Regions from separate parts of the Homo sapiens genome. Here all the other regions are linked to region 3. The links come from fine-mapping of genetic effects on gene expression. A gene starts in region 3. Each other region holds a variant in brackets. All regions are shown on one strand. Distances are from middle to middle. Region 1 has its middle 200 kb from the start of FUT9. Region 2 has its middle 83 kb from the start of MANEA-DT. Region 3 holds the start of MANEA (mannosidase endo-alpha).

What was found.
Region 1: its variant is fine-mapped to the expression of MANEA in lymphoblastoid cells (GTEx, PIP above 0.99).
Region 2: its variant is fine-mapped to the expression of MANEA in tibial artery (GTEx, PIP above 0.99).

The regions. Positions count from the first base shown.
Region 1 is chr6:95,810,148-95,821,263 of GRCh38, reverse strand. No RefSeq gene overlaps it. Among named protein-coding and RNA genes, the nearest start is that of FUT9, 200 kb to the left of the region's middle. The variant TA/A (reference allele first, on the strand shown) is at 5,853.
Region 2 is chr6:95,489,152-95,500,267 of GRCh38, reverse strand. No RefSeq gene overlaps it. Among named protein-coding and RNA genes, the nearest start is that of MANEA-DT, 83 kb to the left of the region's middle. The variant C/T (reference allele first, on the strand shown) is at 6,333.
Region 3 is chr6:95,572,976-95,584,091 of GRCh38, reverse strand. It overlaps MANEA (mannosidase endo-alpha), which reads right to left and starts at 6,557. Exons shown (of 5, transcript NM_024641.4): 1 at 6,454-6,557. MANEA-DT (MANEA divergent transcript) reads left to right here and starts at 6,641. Exons shown (of 3, transcript NR_104136.1): 1 at 6,641-6,999. RefSeq lists enhancers at 5,958-6,057, 5,521-6,461 and silencers at 6,258-6,317, 6,598-6,687, 6,738-6,817.

The DNA.
Region 1 (11,116 bases), 240 kb before region 3:
AAGATTCTTTCCTTTGTCTTAACTTTGGATAGCCTAATGACAATAAGCCAGGTGCAAATCTTTTTGTGGTGAATTTCCCAGGTGTTCTCTGTGCTTCTTGTGTTTGGATGTCTAGGTCTCTAGCAAGGCTGGGGAAGTTTTCCTCGATTATTCCCCCAAATATATTTTCCAAGCTTTTAGAATTCTCTTCTTCCTCAGGAATGCCAATCATTCTTAGGTTTGTTTATTTACCATAATCCCAGACTTCTTGGAGGCTTTGTTCATATTTCCTTATTCTTTTTTCTTTGTCTTTGTTGGATTGAGTTAATTCGAAGACCTTGTCTTCGAGCTCTGAATTTCTTTCTTCTTACTCAATTCTATTGCTGAGACTTTCCAGAGCATTTTGCATTTCTAAGAGTGTGTCCAAAGTTTCCTGAATTTTTGATTGTTTTTTTCTTTAAGCTATCTATTACCTTGAATATTTCTCCCTTCACTTTTTTATAATAGTTTAGATTTCCTTGAACAAGGAAATCTTTGTTTCCTGAAACAAAAAGGCTTCGCCTTTCTCTGGTCCCTTCCTATTTAGCTTAATAACTAACCTCCAGAATTCTTTTTCAGGTAAATCAGGGATTTCTTCTTGGTTTGGATCCATTGCTGGAGAACTAGTGTAATAGTGTAATTTTGGGTGGGTGATGATAAGTCTTGTTTTGTCATATTACCAGGGTTGGTTTTCTTGTTCCTTCTCATTTGGGTACGCTCTGTCAGAGGGAAGGTCTAGTGCTGAAGGCTGTTGTTCATATTCTTTTGTCCCACGGGGTGTTCCCTTGATGTAGTACTCTCCCCCTTTTCCTATGGATGTGGCTTCCTGTGAGCCACACTGCAGTAATTGTTGTCTGTCTTCTGGGTCTAGCGGTCCAGCAGTCCAGCGATCGTACCAGGCTCCAGGCTGGTACTGGGGGTTGTCTGCACAGAGTCTTGTGATGTGAACTGTCTATAAATCTCATTGCCTGTTCCAGTGGAGGTGATGAGGGGTGCAATGGACTCTTTCAGGGTTCTTAGCTTTAGTGGTTTAATGTTCTGTTTGTGCTGGTTTTGTGGTCTAATGTTCTTTTTGTGCTCGTTGCCCTCCTGCCAGGAGGTGGCGCTTTCCAAAGAGCATCAGCTGTGGTATTAGAAGGAGGAATTGGTGGTTGGCAGGGCCCTAGAACTCCCAAGATTATATACCCTTTGTCTTCTGCTACCAGGGTGGGTAGGGAAAGACTATCAATGAGGCAGGGCTAGGTGTGTCTGAGCTCAGACTCTCCTTGGGCAGGTCTGGCTGTGGCTGCTGTGGGGGATGGGGGTGAGATTCCCAGGTCACTGGAGTTGTGTACCTAGGAGGATTATGGCTGCCTCTGCTGAGTCAGGCAGGTTGTCAGGAAAATGGGGCAGAGCCAGCAGTCACAGGCCTCACCCAGCTCCCATGCAAACCAAAGGGCCAGTCTCATTCCCACCGTGCCTCCCCCAACAGCTCTCAGACCATTTCCAGGTGGAGAGCAATATGGGTTTGAAAACCTGCCCCAGACTATCCACCTCCTATCTGTGAAAGAAAAGCACTTAGTACTTTCTCTGCCTGTGAAGTCTGCACACCAGATTAGCACCCTCCCACCGAGTTCTCACCAGGAGACTTATCACCCCGTTCAAATTGTTAACAAGTTCAGCTACATATTTGTTTCTCCATGTTTAGTTTTACCCCCTGCTCCTCTCCGGATGGATCCTTGTGGTGCCAGGCAGGAATGGCCTGCTAGGGAACCCAAAAAGCTCCCAGGGCCTTTCTGTTTCTACCTCTACCCCTGTATTTCACTCAGCTTTCCAAATTGACTCAGCTCCAGGTAAAGTTGGAAACTTCTCCTGCAAACAGGCCTTCAGCTTCTCCAATTAGGGTGTGTATTTGGGAGAGGAGGGTCACCCTTTCCCACTTCCACAGTTGAGGCACTCAGAGTTTTGCAGGAGATGGAGGGGGGTCTCCTGTGTACTGCAGGAGCAGTCTGCTTCCTTCAGAGGGTCTGTGGGTCCTCTCAGGATTGCTGGTCTATTTTTTGACTTTTTAATAACAGTTCTGACTGGCATGAGATGATATCTCATTGTGGTTGTGATTTGCATTTCTGTAATGATCAGTGAGTTTGAGCTTTTTTTCATATGTTTGTTTGTTGGCTGCATGTATGTCTTCTTTTGAGGACGGTTTGGTCATGTCCTTTGCCCACTTTTTAATGTGGTTGTTGTTTCCTTTAAATTTGTTTAAGTTCCTTGTAGATGCTACATATTATACCTTTGTTAGAGGGATAGATGGCAAAAGTTTTCTCCTTTTCTGTAGGTAGTCTTTTTACTCTGTTGATAGTTCTTTTGCTGTGCAGAAGCTCCTTAGTTGTGAATTGGAGTTCATTCATGATTAGGTCTCTGCTTGTCTGTTGTTGGTGTATAGGAATGCTTGTGATTTATGCACATTGATTTTGCATACTGAGACTTTGCTGAAGTTGCTTATCAGCTTGAGAAACTTTTGGGCTGAGACATTGGGATTTTCTAAATATAGGAGCACGTCATCTGCAAGCAAAGATAGTTTGACTTCCTCTCTTCCTATCTGAATACGCTTCATTTCTTTTGCTTGCCTCATTGCCCTGGCCAGAGATTCCAATACTATGTTGAATAGGAGTGGTGAGAGAGAGCATCCTTGTCTTGTGCTCATTTTCAAGTGGAATGCTTACAGCTTTTTTCCCATTCAGTACGATACTGGCTGTGTGTTTGTTGTATATGGCTCTTATTGTTTTGAAGTGTGTTCCTTCAATACTTAATTTATTGAGAATTTTAAGGGACGTTGAATTTTATTGAAGGCCTTTTCTGCATCTATTGAGATAATCATGTGGTTTCTGTCTTTAGTTCTGTCTACGTGATGAATCACTTCTATTGATTTGCATATGTTGAACCAACCTTGCATCCCTGGGATGAAGCCTACTTGATCGAAGTGAATAAGCTTTTTGATGTGCTGCTGAATTCAGTTTGCCAGTATTTTGCTGATTTTTGCAGCGATGTTCATCAAGGATATTGGCCTGTAGTTTTCTTTATTTGTTGTATCTCTGCCAGGTTTTGGTATCAGAATGATGCTGGCCTCATAGAATGAGCTAGAGAGGATCCCCACCTTTTCAATTTTTTGGAATAGTTTCAGTTGGAATGGTACCAGCTCTTCTTTGTACCTCTGGTAGAATCAGCTGTGAATCTGTCTGGTCCTAGGCTTTTTTTTAGTTGGTAGGCTCTTTATTACTGCTTCAATTTCAGAACTCATTATTGGTCTATTCAGGGATGTAATTTCTTCCTGGTTTAGTCTTGGGAGGATGTATGTGTCCAGGAATTTATTCATTTAGATTTTCTAGTTTATGTGTATAGAAGTGTTTATAATATTCTCTGATAATTTTCTAGCTTATGTGCATAGAGGTATTTATAGTATTATCTGATAGCTGTTTGTATTTCTTGGCGGGGGGGTCAGTGGTGATATCTTCCTTATCATTTCTAATTGTGTTTATTTGAACCTTCTCTCTTTTCTTCCTTATTAGTCTACCTAGCAGTCCAGAAAAACTGAGGTTGAAAAAGTGTCCCTCCCTTATTGGCCAGATGGTTTTAATCTGTAGCAGCAGCCTGGATTATCTGTCACTAAAACAGGTGGAGCTTCTCCTGCATTTCCAAAGCTGTGCACCACCACGAAATTATTAATTGATTTAGTATTTCTAAAGATCCATGTAGTCAACAAATCTATTAAGGAATCCAAATACCAATTGTACATCAATAAAATTTAGAAAACACCAAGTTGTTATAAGTTTAAAATCAATGTACCAATTTTCTCTACCTTACTCCTCAATCAAAAGTAGTGTTCCCAGAACTGTAACATATAGATCTATACTGATTTGCTAACCATAACCCATAGCAAAGAATTAACATTATGGATAAAAGGACTACATGGAAAAGGAAAACAAAGTTTTAGAAAGGAAAGATACATTTCTTGATTTTGTTCTCTAGTTTGCATTAGTTGATGCTGGTGATCTACAACCCACAATGGGTTATTATGACAACATGCTTTACATTTTCTGGAGGAAATAACTTTCATTTATAAAATGAGTTTCTCTGCCAGAAATTGGAACCCAAATCACCTCTGGCTTTTTGCGTATTGAGACATTTGCACTACAGGCCTCTAGATTTTCCCTTTTAGTTTCAATTTTCTCCTCTACCCCAACCTTAGCAATTTCAGTGGGGCTTTTTCTGTGAAGAATCTGAGCATAGGCCCAAGTGTCACAACATCTTAGGTATCCACTGTGTGTGACCTGAAACAAATTATAACAACTTTATTAACTCCAGTTCACTCATCTATTAAAAGATCATAATAATAGCACTCTATCTCACATGGCAATGTTAAGGATTTAATGAGATAATATAAGTAACATGCCTTGTGCAGGGCCTGACACACAATAAGTACAGGGCATGTTTTTAATAGGTCACTGTCCAAACACATATCCTGATCTTGAGGGTCTTCTGCTCTTCTCTTTTATGCTTCTTCATCTTTAGCAGAAGGTAATGGGGCCCTAGGGCAAGAGGATCTCACAGATGATAAAATACGGAAAAGAGATTGGGTGAATTTAGGAATGATAAAGACATCAAATGTGTAGCACCATAAAGGGTCATCAAGAGCTGTGTCATAGCTACATACATTATGCTATGATTTTCTTTTATGGAATGGTCACAAATTCACATGGTTCCCCAAGGTCTGGCATTTGATTACACATTGTCCCAGTAAATTTTGTACTCCTCTATGCTTTGTTTACCCTAATAAGATTGGAAGCTATTTGAAAATAGGATCGTAGCATCTTGAGTTCTTTTATAATTTGTACCTTCAATATGTAATATAGTACAGGACACTTAATCTTCACTTTTTTGTTGGTTAACTAATGGAGAAATTAGATATGATTGTGTTGTTCCTCTGTCAACTATGAACTTATAGGTAAAATCTTGTGGAGAGAGAAGACACAGAAATATATAAGAAATGGCGAATTCAATGAAATGTGTAATTATGGATTTAGAGTAACATTGACATTATAATCCTCTTTATTCACACTTTTAACCCAATTTGGAGTTGTTCTTCAGATATTGTTATAGTATCATAATTTTATCTAAATTAAAACATCAAAAAATGATTGGGCATCGAATTTTTATGAATATTCGAAGTCAAAATGATAAGCATATTTTCAATGTCTTGACCACAGGCAAGACAAACACTGAAATCCATAGTTGATTAAGGCAATGTTTATGGAATCGTATCTATTAGATCAAGTGTGCTCACTTCTTGGTTATGAAAGTACATTGTAATGTTTAACAGTTCTGTCTTCTTTTGCTTGTGACTCTATCAGTGAAACTATTTACATGTGACATTTACTTTTTATTATATAAAGCTCTTGTATTTTAGTATTGTCTGTTATTATTCACAAAGAAGGGAAAAATTGGTGTTTGCGTAGTATAGCTGGAGTCCAATACTTCAGTTTTGTTTCAGTTAAATAAACAGTTCCATTCATAAAGATTCTTTGGTTCACCTTCAGTGATCCCTCCCTTGGCAGAGTGCTGCTATCACACTATTTCCACATGTTCTCAGGCAAAGAGAACACAGTTCAACTTCCATGCCACTGGGTCACTGGTTTGGGGGAAAAGTCAACACATGTTAGGTGAACTCTGCACACTCACTTGGCCCTGGAGAACACAATGAACCACACTTGGTCTCTTTTCAGAAAGCAGTGGAGGAGGTAGACAGGGAATCAGACTTATAAATGTCCAACTGTCCTCACAGCTGTATCTTCATAGTC[TA/A]ATAATCATGCATACATATTTATTAATGAGAGAAAGGAGATGATTATAAAAAGATTTATAAATAAGCACTCAATTAAAATATTGTGACTGCAGGAGAAATTAAACATGGGGTCTTAGGGCTAAATGCATTTTTCCTGCCACTGTTATTTAGCTTCTGTTTTATTAAAATACTGTTTTATTTCATAGTTAATAAATTATAGTTATATCTTTAACTAATATGGAACATTTTTATTACGTATTATTATAAAATAATAATTTAGAAAAATTATAATGATATGTGATCTTTACTAAGTACTTTCTATCTACCAGTGATTGTGCTAAGGACTTTATAGTACTTGTTTAATTCATTTACATATAAAATATGTAATACAACTGAATATGATGATAAGAATGGATGAAAAATATTGTGAACAGAGTAGGTGAAGTGGTAGGTATTTAGACAACTATACATGGAGAAAAGATGGATCAAAATGGAAAGTGATTTTTTTGGCCATCCCAGAAGAAGAAAACCAATACCAACCCCCAATAAAGTAAATGCGTGCTCCTCCCTGTCAAGGACCTGGAGAAGTCTGGCAGTGTGTGTGGCTTCACTACATAGTAACTCCTACCTCTCGGGAAGGTGAGGGTGGGAGTGGGCTGTTGTGATCACAGCTGAAGTAATGCACAGAAGGATGAAGATCCATCCTAAGGGATAAATAGTTTTCAAACCACAGGTAGAGCTGAGATGGTTTTTCCAGCTGTTTCTGAGACTTTGCATATCCATAGACTCTGGGTAGAGCTAAGAAACTGAAAAAAACAACACATGTGCCCACCAATTTCCCTCTTCTGGCCTAGAAAAAGGAATAAATGTCAATGGTTGCAGATGAGGTGAGTGCACTTTGAAGACTAAGGTCACTCAGGAATCCTAAATATTTATATGCACTCTACACATTTAATGTTTAATATATGCAAGTAATCTATATTTTGTTAATTATATTTCTTAATATTGCATCATCACAACAGTGCTTGAAACAATTTTAGATAGTCTCAGAAGTGCTGAGAAAAGAAAATATATCTCCAGTAAGATTCTATAAAGCCAATTATCAGGAGAATTCATAAAAATGGCCTAGGTTAAGATGCTATATATATAATGTAAACATATTTTTAGAAGGCACTTGCATATAGTCTACTTCTAGATAACCCAACTGACTGTCCTTATTTTTAAAAAAACACTTAAGTACTTGAAGATTAAGACAAATAAATCTAGTCTATGATGTATAGCTTTTAGTTCATAAACTATCAATTTTGTCTTCTAGAGACATATTTGTTGTTCTTTATAATAAGGCAGTCTTAGAATTAGAAAACTCTACTTAATTAATCTCAATTGGAGTCCCTCTGATAAATATATAGACTAGGAAATAGTCTAAGCACCTAATAATGATTTCTAACATCTGAAAGAAAATAATTTCAATGCATAATAAAATATGATGGTTTTATGAAACAACTATGAAATCAGATCTTTTGCAATAAAATAAGAATATTAAAAAATAATTTTTAGGGGTGTTATCCTATGTCACAATGTAAAAACTTGTTTAGAAAGCTAACATAGAGATTTCTAATTATAAAAACTTGGAATAGATATCTTCTTTCCTGCCTTTCTCACTAAGTACAGCTAAAATCCCTGGACTTTATACATATTACAGACTTAAGAGGGCTGTGAAATATGGAGAGAAGGAAGATACTCTAGGGATCTTGGAATTAGGAATGACATAGTAGTGCCTTCCCTGGGTTTTGCTTTTGCTATGCCAGATTTGATTCTGCAGAAGCCAGCAACCCAGAAACAACAACAAACACAAACAAAATAAACCCCAAGAAAAGCTCACTCTCTCTAACCTAAGGACCAGGAAAGGGGCAGCCTAACAATACAGAAAATTTTTACACAATAGTCACCCTATGAAAGCAATATATCACAGAAAAAACCATGACCCCACTCCCACCCCCCACTGACAATGGCTGAATCTGGAATCTACATGTCCACTCTATCTATAGTGAAATGAGGCACCTCTTTATCCCACTTCCACCTGGCCAGTGTGGTGTCAGAGAAAGCTAAATGGAAAGCCCAGAGCTTTATCCCAACAGGGCAGTAAAGAAGCCCTTCCCTGGTCTCCTGGAGTATCAGTGGAGACCACATGGGAGAGTCTGGACTTCCACTCCCATTGAGGATAAAGAAGTACCCACCTCCTCCTCCTAGGGTAGTATCAGAGGAGATATAATGGAGAGTCAGAACTTTTATCACCACTAATAATTAACTAGAACAGCCTCTCACCCTTTCAGACATCTACCCCTAACATGTCAGTAGAGGCCACATGGCTAAGAGTAGCAGAAACCAGACACCCTTGCTTTCCCAGTCATGATCGTGTCAGCAGATGTCTACTGGAGAGCTTCAACTATCATCTCTGCCAAGCAGTAGTAAGAAACTCCTTGGGCCTGGCGCAGTGGCTCACGCCTGTAATCCCAGCACTTTGGGAGGCCGAGGTGGGTGGATCATGAGGTCAGGAGATCAAGACCATCCTGGCTAACACGGTGAAACCCCATCTCTACTAAAAATACAAAAAATTAGCCAGGTGTGGTGGCGGGTGCCTGTAGTCCCAGCTACTCAGGAGGCTGAGGCAGAAGAATGGTGTGAACCCGGGAGGCAGAGCCGAGATCGCGCCACTGCACTCCAGCCTGAGCAACAGAGTGAGACTCTGTCTCAAAAAAAAAAAGAAAAAAAAAGAAAGAAACTCCTTGGGCGTAAACAGATAGTGAGTGAGTAACCTGGATTTCCACTGTCACTGGCAGTACTGTTACTCCCATGGGAATGGTGGCAGACGAGGCCTGTTAAAATAGATTTAAATAAAATACATAGCCTCATAATATAATACCAAAAACATATAAATTTCTATTAAAAATCACTTCCCATACCAAGAACCTGAAAAATCTTAACTTCAAGGAGAAAAAACAATCCACAAATGCCATTAGCTAGATGATGCAGATGTTAAAAATATCTGGCAAGGACTTTAAAAGCAGTGATCATAAAAATGCTTCAATGAGCAAATGTGAACTCGTTTGAAACAAAATATGGAAAGCAAGGGGAGAAGACATAAAGAACAAAATGGAAACTCAAAATTTAAAAGTGTAGTAACTAAATTGAAAACCCTCTAGATGGGCTCAAAAGAAGAATGAAAATAAAAAAGAAAGGAATTTGTGAATTTGAATATAGAACAATAGAAATTACCCAATATGGACAATAACGAGAAATTGAACGTAATAAAGTTCAGGGATGTGAGGAATTGTAGCAAAAGATTCAACTTCTGTGTCATTGGAGTCCTAAAAGGAAGGGATATTGAATTTATAACTTTAAGACTTTTAAAAAAAGAAGGTTTCCAGGACCAGATGGTTTCACTGAAGAATTCCACCAAAGGTTAAAGAATAATTAATATAAATCTCTTTCAGAAAACAAAGAAGAAAACTTTTCCCAACACATTTGATGAAGTTGATATTACTTAGATATCAAACCAGGGAAAGGCAATATGAAAAAGAAAATTACAGACTAATATCCTTCATGAATATGGACATAGAAATTCTTCATAAAATGTTAGAAAATAGAATTCTGCAATATGTTAGAAAATTATGAACCATGGCCAAATGAGCTTTATTTCAGAGATGCAAGACTGATTTTAAAATCAATCAATATAATCCATTATATAATAGGTTAAGAAGAAAAATCAGAATAAAATGATCATATACATTGATGCAAAAAAGTTATTTGACAAAATTCAACATCTTTTATGGTATAATCTCCCAGAATAATGTGGAATTTATTCAGCTTGTTGAATAACATCTACAAAAAAACCTTCAGCTAACCTCATACCTATTAATGAGAGACCGAATGCCTTTTCTCCTAAGATTGGGAACTAGACAGGTGTCTGCCTATAACATTCTTACCCAATGTGGTACCAGAAATTCTAGACAACAAATTAACACACAAAAAGGAAATAAATGGGATATAGATCAGAAAGGAAGAAATAAAATAGTCTCTATTTACAGATGACATAAATTTACATAGAAAATCCCAAGGAAACTATGAAAAATTCATAAAGTGAGTACAATAAAGTCACAGGATACAAGTTTAACATAAAAAACACAATTGTATTTCTGTGTAAGCTCAATGAACAAACACATACACATCTAAATTAGAAATGCAATGTCATTTATAATCACTCAAAAAATGAAATACTTACATGTAAATCTAACAAAATATACGTGACTTGTTTGTTAAACTGCACAACACTGAAGAAGACATTAAAGAAATTCTTAATAAATCAAGAAAAATGCCATGTCCATGGATTGGAAGACTCCACATAGGAAAGATGTAATTTTCCTGTATATTAATGTAATTGTTATAAAAATTCCAGCAATATTTTGTGTAGATATAGAAATGTTATTAAAAAGTTTACATGAAAAGACAAAGGGTCTAAAATAGCTAAAGCAATTTTTAAATAGAAGAATAAAATGGGCGAAATCAGTCTACAAAATTCCAAGTCTCAGAATCGTGTCATCTGCAAACACAGATAGTTTGACATTTTCTCTTTCTATTTGGATGCATTTTCTTTCTTTCTTCTGCCTGATTGCTCTGGCCAGGACTTCCAGTACTATTCTGAATGGGGGTGGTGAAGGAGGGCATCCTTGTCTCCTTCTAGATTTCAAGGGGAATGTGTCCAGATTTTGCCCATTCAGTATGCTGTTCACTGTGAGTTTGCAATAGATAGCTCTTACTGTTTTGAAGTATGTGTCTTCAGTGCCTAGTTTATTGAGTATTTTTAACATGAAGCGATGTTGAATTTGATCAAAAGCCTTTTCTGCATCTATTGAGATAATCATATGGTTTTTGTTTGGTAGTTCTGTTTATGTAATGAATCATATTTATTGATTGGCATATGTTGAACCAAACTTGCATCCCAGGGATAAAACCTGCACGATCATGGTGGATTAGTGTTGTGATGTTCTGCTAGATTCAGTTTGCTAATATTTCATCAAGGATTTTTGCATCTATATTCATCATGGATATTGGCCTGAATTTTCTTTTTGTTGTTGTTGTGTCTTTGCTAGGTTTTGGCATCAGGTTGATGCTGACCTCATAGAATGAACTGGGTAGGAGCCTTAGTCTCTGCCCACCCAAAAGCTCCTTGATCTGATTAACAACCTCAGCAAAATTTCAGAATACAGAATCAATGTACAAAAC
Region 2 (11,116 bases), 84 kb after region 3:
GCGATCTCAGCTCACTGCAACCTCTGTGTCCCTGGTTCAAGCAATTCTCCTGCCTCAGCCTCCAGAGTAGCTGGGACTACAGGCACCCACCACCACGCCCGGCTAATTTTTGTATTTTTAGTAGAGACGGCATTTCACCATGTTGGCCAGGATGGTCTCGATCTCTTGACCTCATGATCCACCTGCCTCGGCCTCCCAAAGGGCTGGGATTACAGGTGTGAGCCACTGTGCCTGGCCCTACAGTGGTTCTTTACCTGTGTCCTGGGGGTGACAGGGTTTGCTGGCTTTCTTCCAGAGGATTGAGTCTTTTGTTCCATGTGAGAGAAGATTACAGCTAAGGCTTCCAGCCCTTTCTGAATCACTAAGAGAGTCTTTCTTTAGATTCATGCATTTACCTCAGTCTTTTCTGTGTACAAATTGTGAGGTCCATGAAGTAGAACATACATGTAGGTGCAAACTCTCCTGATGTCCGAGGCTTTGTGGGGTGGGGGTATACTCACATTTGGCCTACACTTGACTGAATACTTTAGTTTGGCAGCCTTATCTTCCACTTGTCCTCTGCCCCAGATAAGCCACTGTCTTGTTACTCATGGAGACAGTTGACTTTCCTTAGATTTCAGGCTGGTTGATGATGACTCTGTGACCTAAGCTATCTGATAGATTTAGCAAAAGGTATAATTTGTTATTTTTTTCTTATTTTCTAATAAGAATAACAATTCTTCCAACTTTCTATGTTTTAAACAGAAGCTGAAAATCAGACATCTTAAACAGAATCTGCATATAATTTGAAGATCAAGCCAAAAGTATTTGTTATTATATTGAAGGTTTGAAGACACATATGAGCCAAGAATGTATAAATATTTTCTAATTATTGCCAATTAGTTCATTATCAGATTAAGTATATTTTATATTTTAGCATAGAAAAAGAATTGAGAAGATGGTTATATGAGAGGAAGGATAAGAAGTTTAAAATGTAGATGATAAGGATGGATAAAAAGCAAAATATGCTAAACTCTCCAGAATTGAAACACTTACGTTACAATATCATTCCATTATTGCAGTATATTTATAAGGATTTATAATGATTGAGAAATAGTTGAGGCTTTGTTTTAAATGAGAAGGCAAGACTAAAGTGTAGAAGACATCAAAGAAGGTAGACATAGGCATGGAGAATTTATGTAACTCTGAATAATCAACATGGATCACACTAGCTAGAATAGAGGACTTTTGTTAGACAACATAAGAGATGAGCCTAGAGAAATACAATAAGAAAAAATTGTGGAAGACACCAACAGCTTTGAGAGCATATTAAGCCTTTTTCTGTAGCTAATGTGAAGTCATTTAAAGCTCATGATCAGAGCAATGTCTACTGTTTACAAAGGCCATAGGAGCGTGATGCTTGAAGAGTTAAGTGGAAAATATAATAAATCATTAAATGAAAGTTTTATCTGAGGCTTATTGCTAACTGGGTGCTAGGCAACATGCAAATATTTTTAAAGCAAGTTACCAAGAAACAGCTAGAGTAACTTTCATCTTTTAGGGGAACATGTAAAAGACCATGCTATTATTTATAATCAAACACTTTCCACGTTTTAAAATTTATAATGGTTACTTTATTCTGATTATTCAATAAATGGACTAAATTATGGTATGTGGAAAATTATTATAATTATATGAACAATGGAATACACTGTACAGTGTAAATCTTTTAACAGATGGATCCTAAAACAAACAAGAAATAACTAATAAGAGATCAATAAATCAAATTGGAAGTTAAACAAAATAATAACAATAGACTTTTGGATAACTAAGAGTTATTGTATGGTAATGTGTCCGAAACTGGTGGGTTCTTGGTCTTACTGACTTCAAGAGTGAAGCCGTGGACCCTCATGGTGAGTGTTGCAGTTCTTAAAGATGGTGTATCTGGAGTTTGTTCCTTCTGATGTTCACACGTGTTCTGAGTTTCTTCCTTCTGGTGGGTTCGTGGTCTCGCTGGCTTCAGGAGTGAAGCTGCAGACCTTCGTGGTGAGTGTTACAGCTCTTAAGGTGGCGCGTCTGGAGTTGTTTGTTTTTTCCGTCCGGAGTTGTTCATTCCTCCTGGTGGGTTTGTGGTCTCGCTGGCCTCAGGAGTGAAGCTGCAGACCTTCGCAGTGAGTGTTACAGCTCGTAAAGGCAGTGCGGACCCAAAGAGTCAGCAGCAGCAGGATTTATTGCAAAGGGTGAAAAAATGAAGCTTCCACACTGTGCAAGGGGATCTAAGTGGATTGCCACTGCTGGCTCGGGCAGCCTTTTATTCTCTTATCTAGCCCCACCCACATCCTGCTGATTGGTCCATTTTACAGAGAGCTGATTGGTCCATTTTACGGAGAGCTGATTGGTCCATTTTGACAGGGTGCTGATTGGTGCGTTTACAATCTATGAGCTAGACACCGAGTGCTGATTGGTGCGTTTACAATCCTCTAGCTAGACATAAAAGTTCTCCAAGTCCTCACCAGATTAACTAGACACAGAGCACTGATTGGTGCATTTACAAACCTTGAGCTAGACACAGGATGCTGATTGGTGTGTTTATAAACCTTGAGCTAGATACAGGGTGCTGATTGGTGTGTTTACAAACCTTGAGCTAGACACAGAGTGGTGATTGGTGTATTTACAATCCTTTAGCTAGACATAAAGGTTCTCCAAGTCCCCACCAGATTAGCTAGATACAGAGTGCTGATTGGTGCATCCACAAACCTCAAGCTAGACACAGAGTGCTGATTGCTGCATTTACAATCCTTGAGCTAGACAAGAAGTGCTGATTGGTGCATTTACAAACCTTTAGCTACACATAAAAGTTCTCCAAGTCCCCAACTGACTCAGGAGCTCAGCTGGCTTTGCCTAGTGGATCCCGCGCCGGGGCCATGGGTGGAGCTGCCCGCCAGTCCTGCACCATGTGCCCGCATTCCTCAGCCCTTGGGCGGTCGATGGGACCAGGTGCCATGGAGCAAGGGGCAGTGCCCGCTGGGGAGGCTCGGGATGCGCAGGAGCCCCACTGCGGGGCAGGGGCTTGGGCATGGCGGGATGCAGGTCCTGAGCCCTGCCCCTCAAGGAGACAGCTAAGGCCCGGCGAGAATTCGAGTGCGGCACAGGTGGGCCAGCACTGCTGGGGAACCCAGCGCACCCTCCGCAGCTGCTGGCCCGGGTGCTAAGCCCCTCATTGCCCGGGGCTGGTGGCGCCAGCTGGCCACTCTGAGTGTGAGGCCTGCTGATCCCGTGCCCACCTGGAACTTGCGCTGGTCCATGAGCACTGGGTGCAGCCCCGGTTCCTGCCCGTGCCTCTCCCTCCACACCTCCCTGCAAGCAGTGGGAGCAGGCTCTGGCCTTGGCCAGCCCAGAGAGGGGATCCCACAGTGCAGCGGCGGGCTGAAGGGCTCCTGAAGCATGGCCAGAGTGGATGCTGAGGCCGAGGAGGTGCTGAGAGGCAGTGAGGGCTGCTAGCACATTGACACCTCTCAGTAATATGGCATTTTAAATCATGCAGAAATTAAGAATTATATAATAATTATTTGCATATTTATAAAAAGGTAATATTACATTACATAAAAAATTCTCAATTAAAAATAAAACAAGCAAAAGCTATAAAAATTGTAAGTTATTTGTATTTTTCATTGTTATGCACATGAAATGATGATTATTATATCAGTGAAATGCAATGAATAAAATGTTAGCTTCAAGAAGGCAAGGCTTTGTTTGTCTTTTCCAATAAATTATTACCTATACCTAGAACAGTTATTGACATAAACTAGAGGCTTAGTGTATGTTTTTTTAATGTCAGAGGGATGTTGAGGAAACCACAAAAGACTGAGAGATTTAAGTACAATAAAAATGAAGGCTATAAAGCAAATTGTATATGATGAATGATGTACAACAAATCATACATAAAAAAATTAAAGGCCAAATAAAAAAAGAGAAACAATTTTATGAGTTGATATCATAATTAAAAAGCACATTAAATCCCTGAGAAATAATTGCATCCCATTAAAATAAAATATAATAGACTATAAACAAACTTTAATAAAGAGAAAAACTTACTGATAAAAATAATTAAAAAGAAGTACATGTATAACAGTGGTATTCAATGGTACAACTGTGAAAAACAGATTTTTACTTCTTAAATATTCAAAGATTTAAAAATTATTATTCATTGTAATAAAGCTATGTAGGAAAATTAATTTAATTTTAAAATTTGCAGTCACAAGTATAAAATATAGGGACAACAGGACAATGTGTGTTAATCATCTTATAATTTTATCATTATATACTATAATTTAACTTTTAATAATTTAAAACAAACTTTTTTTTTTTTTTTTTTTTTTTTGAGACGGAGTCTCGCTCTGTCACCCAGGCTGGAGTCCATTGGTGCGACCTTGGCTCACTGCAAGCTCCGCTTCCCGGGTTCACGCCATTCTCCTGCCTCAGCTTCCCTAGTAGCTGGGACTACAGGCGCCTGCCACCAGGCCCAGCTAATTTTTTTTTTTTGTATTAGTAGAGATGGGGTTTCACCGTGTTAGCCAGGATGGTCTCGATCTCCTGACCTCGTGATCCGCCTGCCTCGGTAAAACAAACAGTTTTTATATAACTATTTAGCCATAGGAAAATGTTTATTTTGGTAGTAGTTAAAATTGTGACGTATTACAGACAGTCTAAGAATCATTAAAATAAAGACTTGGCTAAATAAATTGTGATACATCTGTGAAGAAAAACTGCAGCAAATGTATGTTGGTGTAAACAATAATTTGATTAATGCATTCACATACAACAAGACTCTTAGATATTCATAAATAAAATCAAATCTTATTTTGCCTATGGGACCCATGTGTTTCAAATAATCTCATGAATCTAATATATTCCTTGTTTGATTTCCACAGATACAGAATCTGCTGCTTAGTCTTTTTCTTATGTTATCTTGACAGAATAATCTAAAAATGAATGATATTACAGAGGAACATTGGATAACCATAATCACAATCGGAATACAATACTTTAAATACCTCTTTGAATATTCAATAGACAAAGCAAGGAAAAATAATGCTATAGAATATTTAATTGATGCTATTAGTAATGCTCGTTAACATTCATTGAATAGTGCTCGTTAACTTGAGCTAATAGACAAATAAAACCTGACAACAAAAGATTCGTGCATTATTTTTTTGCTTTCTTTGTAATTAAGGTCTGCTCTTTTCTGTATTATTCCTTTTGTCACTTTCTTGAGTTTATTCTGATGTATATTCTCAATTCCTAATTTGTATATTTCCTTAATTTCAATAATTTTTCTTGTTAAAAATGGAATTTGCTTACTAGTGTTAGATAATGAATTGATTTAGCTACCTTGGAAAATAATTTGCTATATTGAATACTGTTTTAGCTGCACATATTTAAGACTCGGCACTTCTACTTTATCCTAGGAATATACTCCAGGGAATCTCGTACAGGGAATACATACAAGGATATATGCTCAAGGATGTTTATTGTAATTTTGTTTATAATAGGGAAAAGTGAGGAAAAAAACCCAAAATACATCAAAAATGGCAAAATATATTGTATAATTATCACATATTACAAAACTACATAGCAGTAAAAATTAATGACCTAGATTGTCATATGTAGTTTATAAACATGGATTAAAAAGTAAGCAAAATGTTAGGTGAAAAAAGGAAATTCCTGAAAGATGTACAGTATGGTAGGTTATGTGATTTATATACATGTATACAATTATATATAATATATACATATCAAATATATGTCCTATATTTAATACATTATCTGCATGTGTGTGTTGGTGTGTGTATGGTCATACCTGTACAGTAAAACTATTAAAAATTGCTTTGGGTTAATATATGCAAAATTTAGGATGGTTGTCATTTCGAAGTAGGAAATGAAGGAAAGGGATTGGGAACACTAGCAAAGGGAATTTAATACAAATCTGTAATGGTGTTTTATTTTTATTTTAAATAATCAAAATTTAAGATGCAAAAATGTTAATAATTAACCAAATTGAACTGGAGAAACATGAATGTTTCTTATATCATTCTATTTGTTTAGACTTAAAATGGTTCATAATTTTTTAAAAGAAGTAAACAAGGGATCATTGAACATCCTCTTATCCTCTCATATTCTCATTTTTTTTTTGCATTTGAATCATAAGGGAATTGTGATTTTTTTTTTTTACTAGCAATAGAAGTTTTTTCTTTTTTCAATGTTATGCCTTGAAATTTGTGTAGTTGAGATATGCAAGTTAACTTTTAAAATGTGTCTCACCAATGAGAAAGTAGCTTGATTGTAATGCTTGT[C/T]TGAGCTGTAAGCCTTATTTCTAAACCTCAAAAATGGAATTTTAAAAATATTCTGAAGCCTATATTTTCCTTTCAGTAATTTAGGAAAATATCTCTTTTAGAGGATCGTTTATGCTGAACAGAGTATCGATGTAAGTTCTAATACACCAACTTGAACTTACTTGGAAAATATCTTTGAAACAATTGATTATTATCATACCTGAGAAATATCAAAAGTTTTAAAAATATTTTATTATTTGAGAAAAAAGTTCTGTCATCTGTGATAGTTGTGCAATTCAACACAGTTTATAATGATATTTAATTAGCAGAATTTTATATTTGAGAGTTATATCTGAATGAAAATGCAAAATGATACTTAAACAACAAGACTTTCAGAAATAAACCAAATAATTTGTAGGTACACATTAGGATATTTCCACTGTAACTGAAAAATCTAATGCAAATTGGCTTAAATGGTATTTTTAAATATAAAATATAAATCCAAAGGTAAACTCCAAGGGCGATATGAACTTATTTTGAAAATCCCCCAAATCTGGGTTCTTTAATATCCACTCAGTCAACATTAACTTCACCCTGCCCCATTTTCCCATGCTTGCAAGAGATGTTCTGTTTACATTTACTGTGAGGAAGGTAGAGAAACCTCTCCTAAACAAGTGTAAAATAGTAGTTCTCTTCACACTAATTGGGCTAGCTTAGGTCACATGCCCAAACTTGAGCCAGAAACTATCACCAGAGACAGAGGTAAATACATTAGTGTAAAGCTAATGAAGCTTTAGGCCAGAACTTGCATGAACTTTTACTAAGACCTGGAGAGGGTTCCTTAACAGTGTGCTCACATGTTCACATTTTATTTCTTTTTGATGAAAATTGCAAAATGAGTCATTTTAAACTTCAAATAGTTAAGACCTCGGTGTCTCTGAACTCTGACTTACCTTTTCTCACACTATTCTTCATTGCAGATGATGTTCAAGCAGCTTTGAATATTTTGGGAGCTCTTGCTAAGGAGAATTTTGTTTGGGGTTCTCTTAGTTTGGGGTTAATGGGGCATATTTATGTGGTTTGCAGTCAACTTCCTGTTTAGTTGATACAGTGAAGTTTTTGCTAGACTTCTTCTGACTTACTGCCCATTTTGCATAGATTGAATTATGATATTAACATATTTTAACATGTTTGGCACTGGAAAGTTGTCATTAATGATGGAAAAAAAAGATTAAAAATACAAACATAAGGAACTAGCCTGTGGAATACTCTTCCACTATCAGATGAGTAAAATTGTGAGCTGAGGATTCAGTTCTTATCTATAACTTACTAAAATGGAAGATTTTTCTTATTTAAAATACATGTCATACCATAGAATATACAAGTATTATTGAATTATACATTTTTCCCTTTTAACTGGGAATTACATGAAACAAAATTTATCAGAATTCTTCTATTTGTAGGGCACAGGCCAGTAGCAGAAGTAAAAACAAGTTATTAGCAATAATAAAAACTAAAGTTGAATTTAACTTTACTAGATAAAAAGCTGAAGTATTTTTTTTATTCTGCTATAGGCATTGAATCTATAAAACTGTAAGAAGTGGTGATCAAGGGCTATGCATTTTGAAAAGGAGGGAAAATGGGCCAGGCATGGTGGCTCATGCCTGTAATCCCAGCACTTTAGGGAGCTGAGGCAGGAGTATCACTTGAGCCCAGGAGTTTGACACAAACCTGGGACACACAGAGAGACCCTGTCTCTACAAAATTTTTTCAAAATTAGCCAGGCATAACAGTGTATGTGTATAGTCCCAGCTACTCAAGAGGCTCAGGTGGGAGGATTGCTTGCACCCAAGGTGTTGAGGCTGCAGAGAGATATGATTGTACCACCGAACTCCAGCCTGGGAAACAGTGACCCTGTCTAAAAACCAACAATAAAAAAAAAAAGAAAGTAGGGAAAATGTACTGTAGAAATGAACTTCTTGTAGTTCATTAAAGTTATATTATTTTTCTAAATTCTGTTATATTTGTAGTACCTTTAGTCAGCTTTAAAATTTTTAATTTATTATTAATTTTATTTTAAATAAATATTTAGTTGTACCTATTCACAGTTTGTATTGTTTTTTAAAAGAGATCCCCCACATTTTATAGGCTTTTGAGCCCCAAAGAACCTTGCTCCACCTGAACAAAGGAATGAAATGCATAGGTAGACTACATAGGCCAATCAGGATTCTTCTTTGGAAACAAAAATAGGATATGTTACTGAACATGATTTGGGTTATTCTGGAATGGGAGGAAATAGAGGCTGGGTGACCTAATAGGAGTTTTCAAGTCAGGATAAATGAAATAAAATAGATTCAAATGAGTTAATTTACAGTTTTAAAAATACCAGCAAAGTGTAAAGAAGAGGAGAATCTTCCACATGTGTGCAAGAGCAAAGAAGATTCTACATGTTTTATGGCCATATTCCTTCTTCTTTTTTCCTCCAGTCAAAAATATACATTAATGAGAAATGTATAATACATAAGTCTGAGTTTATAAAATAACTAAATAAAAGGAAGTGTTAAGTCAATAATGTAAACATTCTGATTTTAAAAAGAATGCATATCAAGATAATTGACAGAGATAATCTGTTTTCTTTATAAATCTTGTCTCAGCAGAAAACATATGGATCACTGCAAATAGAATAATTCTTGATGTGTTTAGTGACATAGACAAAAGGGAGACTATAAAGGCTACTAAAATAACCTGGAGTCGGCAGCAGCTGACCTGGTACCACCCTTAGACTTAAAGGAGGAAGAGATAGCATGGTTATTGGAACCCAGAGATAGCATGGTTATTGGAACCCAGAGGAATACAATGGCATTTGGGTGATGTTTATTGAAAGGATTAGCTAGTTTGACCTCATTTTGAAAGGGAAGGAAGAAGCCAGGTAATATTCTGACCTTACTCTCTGCTCTTCCTCTTTCTTTCTTCCTCCAAACTGCTATGTTTCTCCGCTGATTGGACTCAACTGGAAGCCAGATGAGTGAGAAACCATGACTGTGTGATTCATACAGATGAACCTCCTGGGTTAGAAAGAAGGACAGATAATAGATATTGAGGAGCAAAATAGCACTAGATTCTAATGAATGAATGATACCCAAACAATTTCAATTTAACTATGTGAGTGAAACAGATTATTTGTGGTAAATAAAAGGTTAAATTCGTTGTGTACTTCAGTTGATTGGCTATCTAATGACATGGAAAATGGATAGTCACATATATTCAGCTGTTCATAAGACAGTTATTTTTCTGAGTTGGGTCACCTGCTTCCAAGAAATATGTATCATCATTCAGATTTCTCTCATATTCATTATTTCTGATGTTATTCCTTTTTCCCATTGACACTTTCAATATTATACATAATTATATTTGAAGAATCTACACAGTTCATTTCACAATTGCATTCATATCAAAAAAAGATACGAGAAAATTCTTTTCGAAGAGAAAAAGAATAGTTTGTTACTTCTTTAGCTCAGTTCCTTAAAGAGATAATAAAAGGAGTACACTATAATTTAAATTTACAGAGTGATTATAAGGAATTTTTAATACAATTATTACATTCACTTGTGCTGTTAAAATAGAACACATTTTAAGAAAAATGTTTAATCTATTTATTTGATTCTTCCCAAATGAAAAGCTCAATCTAGATCCTAAAGCAAGATTTCACATTTCCCCCGATAAGAGAAATGTACAATGAGCTTCAGTTCATTTTATCCAAAAATAATTAAGGAATTATAGATTATACGACAAATGAGATAAATGAGATTCAGTCTAAAGAGTTTCATGTATATGTTAACTGTGTGAGTGTGTGTGTGTGTATATGTGTGTGTGATATATATCTACCACATATGTGGTAGATATATGTGATATCACAAATACCACATATGGGATATCTATACATACATATGTGTATGTATGTGTATGTGTATATATATATATAAATACACATCAAAGGTGGTGTAATCACACATTTAAAAAATACAATGGACTGCTTTCTGTGTTCCTTCGTGAGCACTCATTGGAAGAAAGCTTTTTCAGAGGAAAAAGAAAAAAACCTCTGCCAATTTGTTTATTAATTATCACTGATTGCTTTTACAAACAGTTGTTTTCCTCCATCATTATTTCAGAAGGATTAAATTGTTTTAAGGATATTTTCATCTTCAGCCTTGAAAAAGCTGTAGCAAACAAAATCAGCCCTTTTGGTCCCACTTATATAACTTCACTCACTTTGTGCCACAGCTGAGTCTGGGATCATGTGGCTTCTTGTTCTGGGGATTTCCAGCATTTTTGCCATTATTTAAATAAATGAGGCACTGCTTGTTCATTTCTACCTTCATTCTTACTCCCTTTTCCCTTCTTTCTCTACTTTTATTTTAAACAAATATTTATTGAGCACTGACCCAGGAATGGCTCTGGTGATATGATTGTGACATTATATAGAAGATCTCTTACTTCAAAGCATTTTTATGTCGTGAGGATACGGACAGGTAGAGAGGCAGGTTAATGAAACGTGACAAATACTGTGGTACAGGAAGTTCAGGGTGCTGGGTGCACACATAGCACTCTCCTAACCTAGATTTGGCTTCCTGGAAGAAGTGATATCCAAGTTGAGATTTCAGTGATCAATAATAAGTAAGAATAAGTAATAATCATCCAAAAAGAAACAGCTGACAGGTCAGGGAGGGAATTCCAGGCAGGGAGATCCATATGAACACTAGTGGAGGGGCAGGAAAAGAGAGAGAACTTGAACTAGTTGAATGAGA
Region 3 (11,116 bases):
GATAAGAGGATTAAGAGATTAAAGTAAGACAGGCATAAGAAATTATAAGAGTATTCTTAGGGAAGTGATAAATGTCCATGAAATCTTCACAATTTATGTTCCTCTGCTGCAGCTCCAGTCAGTCCCTCCGTTCGGGGTCCCTGACTTCCCACAACACTATTCTACATGTATTTAAGAAACACTAAACTAACCAAGTATATTTCTTTAACAGCTAAAATCATAAGAATTATTTTTAAGGTTAATCTTGTTTAATTGTGAATAGTGAATAATATAAAGAATAACATAAAAGAATAGTATAAAAGACATGTCTAGTTTAAAACATATAAAGTAAACATTCAAAAAGAAATCTGCCAGCTTAAAAGCTCCTTTCCACTTCTCGTGCTCCCTCTGAATCACCAGTCCTGCCCTTCTCCCTGCCTAAGGGCAACTGCTTGAATTTTGTGTTTACCATTTCACCTCTTCTTTCTTTATAGTTTTCCCACCGCACACAAGCATATCTAACTAAAGTTAACTGTATTTTGTCTGTTTCAAACTTTAAGTAAATATGGTGTGTGTACATATATACGTCATATATGTATATATGTATACTGTATATACGATATGCATACTGTAAATATATCAAGGCATGCAGGTACATACATAAACGTGTGTATGTGCATATGTACACATACATGCACATATATGTGTATTTACATATTGTGCATCTTATGTTATATATGGATACATGTCATATATATTTAGATATAAATATGTATGATTATATATACATAATTAAATGTATTTAAATTTATAAAACTCTTGGGAAACAATATTAATTACTAAATCTTTTCTGACACTTTACCTGGTATCCTAACTCTTACCCATCCCTGCATTCCATCACATCAGTTCCCTCCCTCTCTAATAAAAAGCTATGTAAATGAACTTTTAGTAAAGGAATAGGTAGACAGGTCTGGAGATTTTGTTTTAATAACTATATACATACTGACAAAATGTTCCTCCAGAAGATATCTAATTAATTACAAATGGGGAAATAATAACAGTGGAAAACCTACCAAAACACCAATTTAAACTAGTGATCAAAATTGACTTTATCAGTTAATTTGGATAAATAAGTATGGCCATTAGTCTTCAGCGAACCCGTACTGAGAAAAACACAGAATCACTGCTGTGGTACTCTTGTTAAAAATTAATCCAGATCTAATCACGAGGAACCATGAGACAATATATTAAAGAGAGGATACACACATATACATAAATACACACATATTCATACATATATGTACACCACATACATACACTATATATAAAATGTATGGCTTACATACAATGCAACGTATAATAAGTAAGGGTATGTGTGTTTGTGTATAATGGTAAGCAAATATGGTAAAATATTACCATATGGTGAATATGCAGGAAAAGTAAACAGAAATTGTTTGTGCTATTTATCCCAGCAGTAAATAGAAGAATGTGAGCTGTTAACATACCTGCTTATTTCTGGAAAGGGCTAAGTCACAAAGTCTTTCAAACCCTGCACTACATGACTCTGTGAAGTGAAATTTCTACATGTGAGCTGTGGCAGTCCTGTTGCACTAACAGGTATAAAAGGATGGGCTGGGCGTGGTGGCTCACGCCTGTAATCCCAGCACTTTGGGAGGCTGAGGCAGGCAGATCACGAGGTCAGGAGATCAAGACCATCCTGCCTAACACGGTGAAACTCCATCTCTACTAAAAATACAAAAAATTAGCCAGGCATGGTGGTGGGCACCTGTAGTCCCAGCTACTCGGGAGGCTGAGGCAGGAGAATGGTGTGAACCTGGGAGGCAGAGCTTGTAGTGAGCAGAGATCGCGCCACTGCACTCCAGCCTCGGCGACAGAGCAAGACTCCGTCTCAAAAAAAAAAAAAAAAAAAAAAAAAAAAGATGATACAACCATTTTGGCATGCCACTGTAATTTGTTGTCCTGAAATTTTCAAATCATTGACATCACAACAAACATTTCCCTTTGATTGAAGAAAGGGAAAATTTTGATGAGACATGAAGCAAAAATAATATTTTGGATGTAATATATCAACTACTATGATATATAATATCATATCTGTATTAAAGATACACATAGAAGGAAATATACTTAAACATGTAAAATAGTTATGTCTGGATGAGACAACAGTGATATTTTCTTACTCTGTTTTCTAAAAGTAGAACATAATACTTCAGAAGGAAAACATTTGGATAGGTATTCTATAAGGAAAAAAACAATGGTAATGAATGTTGGAAGAGTTACAGAGAAAGGAGAAATAACTAACAGATTTATAAATTAGTAAGGCATTCATTTTTGAAACGTTGACTTCAGCTGAATGGCGAGATTCATGAAAGATCAAGATATATAATAAATCTTAAGATGTAAATTCAAATCAGTCACACTTAGTTGTGTGATCCTGGGTAAATCACTTAGCCTTTTCTTAAAAAAGAGGGTATCTGTTTTGCCTACTGATAAAACTATTCTGTGAATCATGCAAGACAATTTGAAACAGTAATGTTTTAATCAAACAGTAAATACTAATGAATTTATAAATAAATGAAAAGTGAAGAAATATTGGAAACTCTAAAAAATTTCTTAGGTTCATTTTCTGGATACACTCATGAATACAAAGCACAAAATGTCCATTTATGGAAGCTGTTTTTTTTTCTCTCTCTCTTGCCTATGAATGTAATTTCTTAAGCTGATCCTCTGTCTTCTCATTTTACATTACTTCATTCATTCAATTAAAATGTGTGTTTATCACATCATTATAGATGACACACAAGCTCAATTTTAAGAGATGATCTGCTGGCTCTGGCTCAACCTCCATGTCTCAATTAAGTCATCTCAACCTAAATAAACACAGATGGGCATTGAGATTTAAAATATGAGCTCTGTAGTTCAAATGCTTGAGCTCAAATTCCAGCTGTGCCATTTTTTAGTTATCTGACCTACAAAACTGACCTGATCTTTCTGAGTTCCTTTCCTCACCCATAGAATGAGTTATTACTTCACTCATAGGATTTTTGTGAGGATGAAATTAGTTAATATTGTAAAACTCTCAAAATCATGTGGCTTAGTATAAGACTAAATAAATGAGCAATTGTTTATGATGATGATTAAAGATGGGTGTCCGACAAGCAATTAAAATATAACACATTTTATTCTAAATGCCTATTCTCTATATGACCAACTATTGAAATACCAGTCACCTTCAAGTCAAAGTTGAAATGCTGCCTCTTCTTGATACCTCTCCTAATTCCACAGTGAAAAGTACTTATTCCTCATATATTTTATTGTTAACAGTATTTACTTTTTAAATTGTCATTTCTTTTTTTTTTTTTTTTTTGAGACGGCGTCTCACTCTGTTGCCCAGGCTGGAGTGCAGTGGCACTATCTCCGCTCACTGCAAGCTCCGCCTCCAGGGTTCATGCCATTCTCCTGCTTCAGCCTCCCGAGTAGCTGGGACTACAGGTGCCTGCCACCACGCCTGGCTAATTTTTTGTATTTTTAGTAGAGATGGGGTTTCACCGTGTTAGCCAGGATGGTCTCGATCTCCTGACCTCGTGATCCACCCGCCTCTGCCTCCCAAAGTGCTGGGATTACAGGTGTGAGCCACCGTGCCCGGCCAAATTGTCATTCCTTATGTATTATATCATGCTGTGCATTTATCTTTATATCACCTACTAGATTGCTCCTTAAGTTTCAGAAATGGAGTCTTTATCTTCACATTCTAGTAGAGCATAACATATCTTTCACATAGTGTTCATTAAGTGTTCAGCTTTAAAAAAGTTAATTTCTGGCTCTTTGCTGTTTCATTGGTATTCAGGCAGTGTGTGTGTATATATATATATGTATATCTGTGTGTGTGTGTATATATAGACTACTGACCGTATACACACTTGATAAGTTTACGGTGTATACTGAACATATTATAAAGAATCGTAAAGATCCAATAATTTTAAAAATCCAATTTAATAAAAAAAATCATCTTCAACGCTGTAAAACCACAATGACCCTTGAGATGCCTAAAATGTCTGATCTTGCAGGAAAGGGGTGGAGGAACTAATTTAGCTTCAATAAAAGAAAAGTATTATAAGTCACCATAGAGAAAATATTACAAGTTTATTGCAGATATATCTTTCCAAGGCAGGGACCTACTCAAAGTATTGGCTACTGAAAATCTGTTTTCTCCTCAAAAGACTGTTTACATTACTCATACACAATAGGTTCTTTTGAACCTGTAGCTTCTATTTTTTGAGTTTTGTGCTTTTAATCCTTTGAAATGCTGACTTGAAGCTTAGTGATGTCTAATAAAAAATTATTGGACATATCCAGCTAGCTAAGAGACCCCAAGAGATTCAGAAGCAGGGTGGTATGAATTAGTACTTCAAAAATTATTTGCTTTTATCATGTAACTCACAAAAGCCAAAAAGACTTCCCTTTCAATTAACTAAATTAAATCACACAGACTTCTGGTGCTTTTTTTAAAAAATATATTGTTTTCTTCTAATTTTATTTTGTATGAAGCCACCGGAGATAAATATAACTCAATACTAGAAGACACATCTGGAACTTTCAAAATCAGTTTCAAAATCAATCCTTGCCCAGGTCAGTTTTATTGTAAACACTTGTACCCTCTGGTTAACAGAAATTCAGTGAGGTTTAGTTTCTGTTTTTTGTTTTGTTTTGTTTTGTTTTTGAGATGGAGTCTCACTCTGTTGCCATGCTGAAGTGCAGTGGCGCCATCTTGGCTCACTACAACCTCCACCTCCCGGGTTCAAGCGATTCTCCTGCCTCAGCCTCCAGAGTAGCTGGGACTACAGGCGCACGCTACGACGCCCAGCTAATTTTTGTATTTTTAGTAGAGACAGGGTTTCACCATGTTGGTTGGCCAGGATGGTCTCGATCTCTTGACCTCATGATCCACCCACTTCGGCCTCCCAAAGTGCTGGGATTACAGGCGTGAGGCACCGCGCCAGGCCGCAGAATTTTTTTTAACCTCATTTTACAAATGATGAAGCTGAGCAGTTGGTAACTTTTTCAAAAATCTCTGGGCCAGCAAATGGCCAAGAAACCAATCTAAGGTTAATCACCTAGCAAGGAGCAGATCGAGTCTGGCTCAAGAACTCAAGTTCTTGTCCATGCTATTCTGCCTTCCTTTAAGGTATTAGACAAATCAAATTTAGAGGATACACCAGTTATTTTTGTGACACAAGATGAAAGCTGCTGCTATATGGTTATGTTTTCAATTAAGGATTATGTACCTAATAAACAATGATTAACTGTTACCTACTCCATAAACTGTGCCCAAACTTCATCTAAAGACAGCTTATTCTATTTTATGATCATACATTCACTATTCGTCACACGAATAACAGCAACAGCTCTGGAAATGGTGTTTTCATTGTTGTGATTTTTTGTTTTGGGGGGTGTTTTTCTGCATTGAGCCTGAAAATCCACAAATTCACAGCACTCATGTTTTTTTCAGGTGTGATACACCTGAAATAGATGTATTGTCATGAAAGTGATTTGCAAACAACGTGATACAGTATCACCAATATCTAGGTTTTACTTTATATTTTTGTTTCAAACTACTGCCTCAATACTTTAACGTGAACAGCCTATTCCAGTCCCATTTTTCTTATTTTCAAGTTCTTAATCAACATTATCCCCCCCTTGTTGTTGTTTTATAGCACTTCCACATTTTCTCCTAACACTTATCCGTAGGGTCTTACAACAACAAAACCAAACAGTTATACCTGCCTGTACTTCAAGTTGCTTCTTTGGAAAAAGGAACAACAAAAACACTAATCCAGCACTGTTGCATCCCGACTTAGCAAAGGCTAAGAGTCTAAGATGACAGTGCCAAACACGTTAACAGGTGAACTGAAAAACCATCTCTAGCGGCCTCGCCATCGGGCGGTCTCCTCCCGATGCCCAGAGGCGACAGCTACCTTTCCGTTGCACCCAGAGCCCAGCAGGCCTCGATCCTTCTACTCTCCCGGTCGGCTCAAGGCCCAGAGGCAGTCTGGGGGCACAAGGAGAAGGTGCTGAAAAAGGCTTCCATCCGACCCGAAATTTCCACCTTGTCGGGGAGACAAGGAAAATCCGAGGCGACAGGAGGTACCGTTTCAAAGAGGAGGCGGCGACGAGGCCAGTGAGGTGGGGATAAAGCAGTGTAAAAGGCAGTAAAACTAACGCAGACTAAAACAGGCCTAAGAGTGACAGCCTAGGTTAATCGAGGGGGCTACAGGCTCGCCGCTGGGCGCCACCAGCGCCTGCCAGAGGGGCGCCGGGTCAAAGGGCGCCCGGAGGAAAGCGGCCACCAGATTGGCTGGCGGGCGAGCGCGCAGGCGCCCGCGGTGGACCTCGTGCCTGCCGCCGCTGCTGGCGCCGCCGCCTCCAAGAGGTCTGACTCCTGCAGCTACTCACCAGGGTCGGGTAATTCACTTCTTGCAAGGACTCGGCCAGAGGAGAGGTTAAGACCGCGAACATAGAGCTGACTGCCGCCGCGCCCCGAGCCCAGACAGCCCCTCCTCCCCGAAGGCGCGCGCACAGCGTTCCGGGCGCTTTCAGGGGCGGGACGGGTGGGGGCGGGGTCACGGAGCGGGCGGGGCTCGGGGTCTTCCGGAGCCTCCGGTCGCGGGTCTAAGAGGACTAGGGCGGGAGCGGCGCGGAAGAAAGAGAGGACTGCGTTTTGGGGCGTTCTGTCAGAGGGGAAGGACGTGTGGATTGGAGTCAGACTGCACTCCCGCCCTATTTCTGCAAGTAGAACTCACTGCCTTTAGAAACGGTCTTCTGAGGCTCTGTTGGGAGGCTCTAACTGTATTACAGAGGACACATTTTTGTTTGTTTTTATGTGAAACATTCAGAAGTTGCTTGCATCAAGTGCTTTACAAGTACACTGGTTTTCAAACTTTTAAAGTTGAGGAACTGTTTTGATTTTTGTAAAAATAGAACTTTACTTGGAAGCCCAAGGTAGGCAGATGGAGATGGCGTTTTTAATTTGCGAATGTATTCTATAAAATCACATCTGTACTGAAGTACTAGAAATAATTGAGGATAAGTCAGATGTGAAGAGCAAGAACTTTTGAAATAGGATTACAACTGAAGGTTTCCATCTTACATTAGCTTCAGAAAACAAGAAAATGCTATCTTTTGTTTGGTTACATAGTAACAGGAAGTCCTTATTCAAGCTAGAACTTGCTGATGTGAACAGTTTCATAAGGGCTCTCCTTAAAAAGATTTTGTACACCAATTTTAATTGGGAAATATACATATGAGTATATCTCATGTGCATATCTTAAAGAAGAATGAAAAATGCCCAGGTACCCACTACAGAGCTTAAGAAAAAAAAAATGCCAGTATTTTTGGAGTCTTCTAGAAAGAAGACTCTCTAAAAACATCTCCTTCCTTCCGTTCACCATTATGCTGAATTTTATATTACTCATTCCGTTGTATTTCTGAAAATAGTTACATATGTACGATTCCCTAAAAATACTATTTTCCTAGTTTTATATTTCATATGTGAATCATTCTTCATTTTTCCCCTTTTTTCACTAATTTAGGTTTTGAGAGGTTTTGAGATTCGTCTGTATACAAGTCCATTTCCCATAAACTAGACTGGCACATCGTTACCCTTATGCTATTGTTAGACTTTTTAAGTTTTTGCTGATAAGAGCATCTGATTGCTCTTTTAATTTGCATTTTCCCTTTTGCTAAAGCCTGTTCTTAATTTTATCTCATTTTTTATTAAATTGCTTGCTTTTGAAAATTATTTTGTAGATAATATTTATTTTTTCTAGTTTAATTCTCTCTTGTAAGTTACATGTGTTGCAAATGTCTTCTCTTAGTTTATGGACTGTCTTTCCAGTTTTTATGATGTTTCTTGATTGCCAAAAGCTTTATGCTTCAGTATACAGCTTTTTGAATTTAATAATATTTTACATTTTAATTTTGTGCTTTTTGCTTTCTTGCTTACAAGATTCTTCCCAACATAACATCAGAAACTATTCTTTCTTCTACAAGTTTAAAAGTTTAATTGTAGCAACTTTAAACACAGAAAGGACAAATAATAATATAATGAACACCCATGCACTCAACTCTATGTATTAAAACATTTTGCAAACCCCTCCTCCTAATGATTCTTGTCTAAAATTGCCTTAACTATACTTGGCTCTTTACTCTTTCATTGAAATTTTAGGATGAGCCAGCCAAGATCCATTTAAAAAATTGGATTTCAATTGGGCATTTTATTCAACTTGAGAATTGCATTTAGAGATTTAGTGAAATGTCTTCTTATCTATGAACATGGTATATTTATTTTATTCAGGTACTTTATGTGCTACTATGCTTTGTAATTTATTGAGTATCTTTCATTATATTGCCTCCTAGTTTTATTACTAAAATTAGAGATCTCTCTCTTTAAACTCTATTTTCTAATTGTTTAGTAACATTGTATTAAAAGAGCATCAATTTCAATATATTGGTACTATCTCCAGAAGCTTCGCTGAATTTTTTTGATTGCTTGCTTTATTTCCCTGTTACATCTTTGGATGACCTATATAGGTAATCATATCATTTGTAAATAAGAATAATGGTTTCCTTCTTTCTCTCTTTTCAAACCACTTATTATTCAGTTTTTTCTTTTATTTATTAACAGAGCATCCAGTGCAATGTTTAATGGAAGTAATAATGGCATTCTTGTCCCATTCCTCACTTTACTGCAATACTGCTAACATTTTATAATGATAACAATGTTTGCTGTGGGTTTTTGGTAAATACTTTATCAAGATTATTAAGTGTTCTGTTTCCAGTTCATAATGTATTGTTGTTTGCTTTTTTTTAACCATGAGTGACAGTTTAATTGATTAAATGCTTTTTCTGCACCTATTGAGATAATCATTGTTTCCTATTCTAATATATTTATGGGAATGATTAATACATTTTCTGATGTCAAATGAGAGGGAGAGGATTTTATTTTATAAATATGTTAATGCATGCTCACTTGCTTAAAAACTGGGTACTTTATGACTGCCAGTGTAAATAAATTAGGCAAGTAGATTCTCATTGCATCACACTCTATTCATTGCACAATGGTGTTTATAAACTGGATTAGAATTGCTGCTAGTGCCTCATCTTGTAACTCTGACTGCTCTACCTATCCCCTGCTATTGTCAGGGAATGTTGAGATGGCAATGATAGAAATAATGTTGTTAATATTCTTTTTTTCTTTCACATCACTTTTTTTCACAGTGTTTTTATGTAGAATTTTTTTTTTTTACTTGACATCACTGGAAAGTCAGCAATGTTTTGTTGTAATTATCACATATAGAATGTTATTACATTCTGAATCTTGATTTTGTTTTCAAATATGGGATGGCCATAATAACTGCCACATCCAATTTTTTTATCTCTCATATATACATATAGATTTAATTAGTTCAATAATTTCCTGAATGTAAACAATGTAGAATTTAGTAAATTAATAAGCACTGATGGGAAAGGTCTCCAAGATAAATGAGCAAGTGATTAGTATGTTAATACTTACAAGAGAAATTCACATTATATTAATATAAATTTTAAATATATATGTGCATGTATGATATATAAAAATATCTGAAAGGATATATGCATTGTTACCTATAGGGATGTAACAGAAGGGGAATGAAGGAGAATTTTCTTTTTTACTCTCTGTAGTGCTGTTTTCTTTTTTAATGTGAGCCCATATTTATGTATTTTTTAATTAAAAATACAGCACCAGAAGAATATGCCATTTATCTAATAGATGGTTTCTTGGAAAGAAAAAGAGCTGCATATAAATTCATTTGTGTAGTAAATAGACATTTTAAATGTGTTGCATCAGGGGTAATCAGTCACTGAGAGTCCAAAGACAAAAATGATCCAAAGAAGGAAGAATGGAGAAAAAAAAAATCCCCCATTTTTTTTTCTTTTTTGTCAAATTCTTGTATGGAAAGATTCTAACACAATAAACTAATAGTAGCCTTTGGTTTATCCTAATTAGCATTTATTAAAATCATAGTCCCCACCCCACAAGATCCTTCAGGTTAATCCTATCTTGCTACTAGAAAAGCGGCAGCCATTTATCTTATCTTTTGGCATCAGCATTGAAGAGTCTTCTTTGTATTTCCCAGACCTAAGCAGTTACACCTTCAACCATCTTTTTCTTGCCTCTATTTCAATGGGCCCTATTGTTTGTCTCCTGATTATTTCATGTCTATTTTTCCCTGTCCTAGAAGTTTCATTAGTATTTCCTAGCCATATGCCATTTATACCTTTGCTCATTACTCCTGTCACTGAAGATGAGAAATCAATTTCTGTCCATATCCTCTCCACTTACATTAATCAGAGATATATTTTGTAAGCAATAGAAATTGAATCTGGCAAACCTGAAAACAAATAGACTATGTAAAAAGTTACAGAATTTAGCATGAAGATGAAGGCTAGTACATTAGGTAATGGCAATGGATAGGAAACAAGAGGGGCTAGGAAATTGGGAACACAGCCTCATATAACAGTACAGATTAGGGCACTGCTGCTTTCAGGGCTGCACTGATCTCAAAGCTGCTGACACCACTATGAGTGACTTCTCAACTCTGTGTTGTCTACCTCGTTGCTTCAAGATTCAAATTTTGGATTGAGATCATTTGATTAGCTTACTCTAGGCTGTATGTCTTTTCCTCCTTAGCCTCCTTGAAGTAGAGCCCAGAACTTTTGGCTTTAATGGGAAATTGGGCACAAAACACAGAATACATTATTCTTCCAAAACCTGAAGGATTTTTAGATTCTAAGTAGTAACAAAATAAAATAAACTAAATCCCCAAACAATAGTCCAATTATCCATCACAGTATGCTTCACTGTCCATATAAAGTCTACTTTCTCCCTTACTATTTTATACTTACTGTTTTATTCTTTTAATCCCTATACATTTATAGGGAGTAATATGAAACAGCAATAATTTCTTAATTAACTAAATTGTTCTGTTCTTTTTATCATATCTGGTATCTGTGAAGGTGTAACTAAGGTATTCCTTGACACAGTTTGGGATGCAAAGAATGTAACTCCAATAGTGCC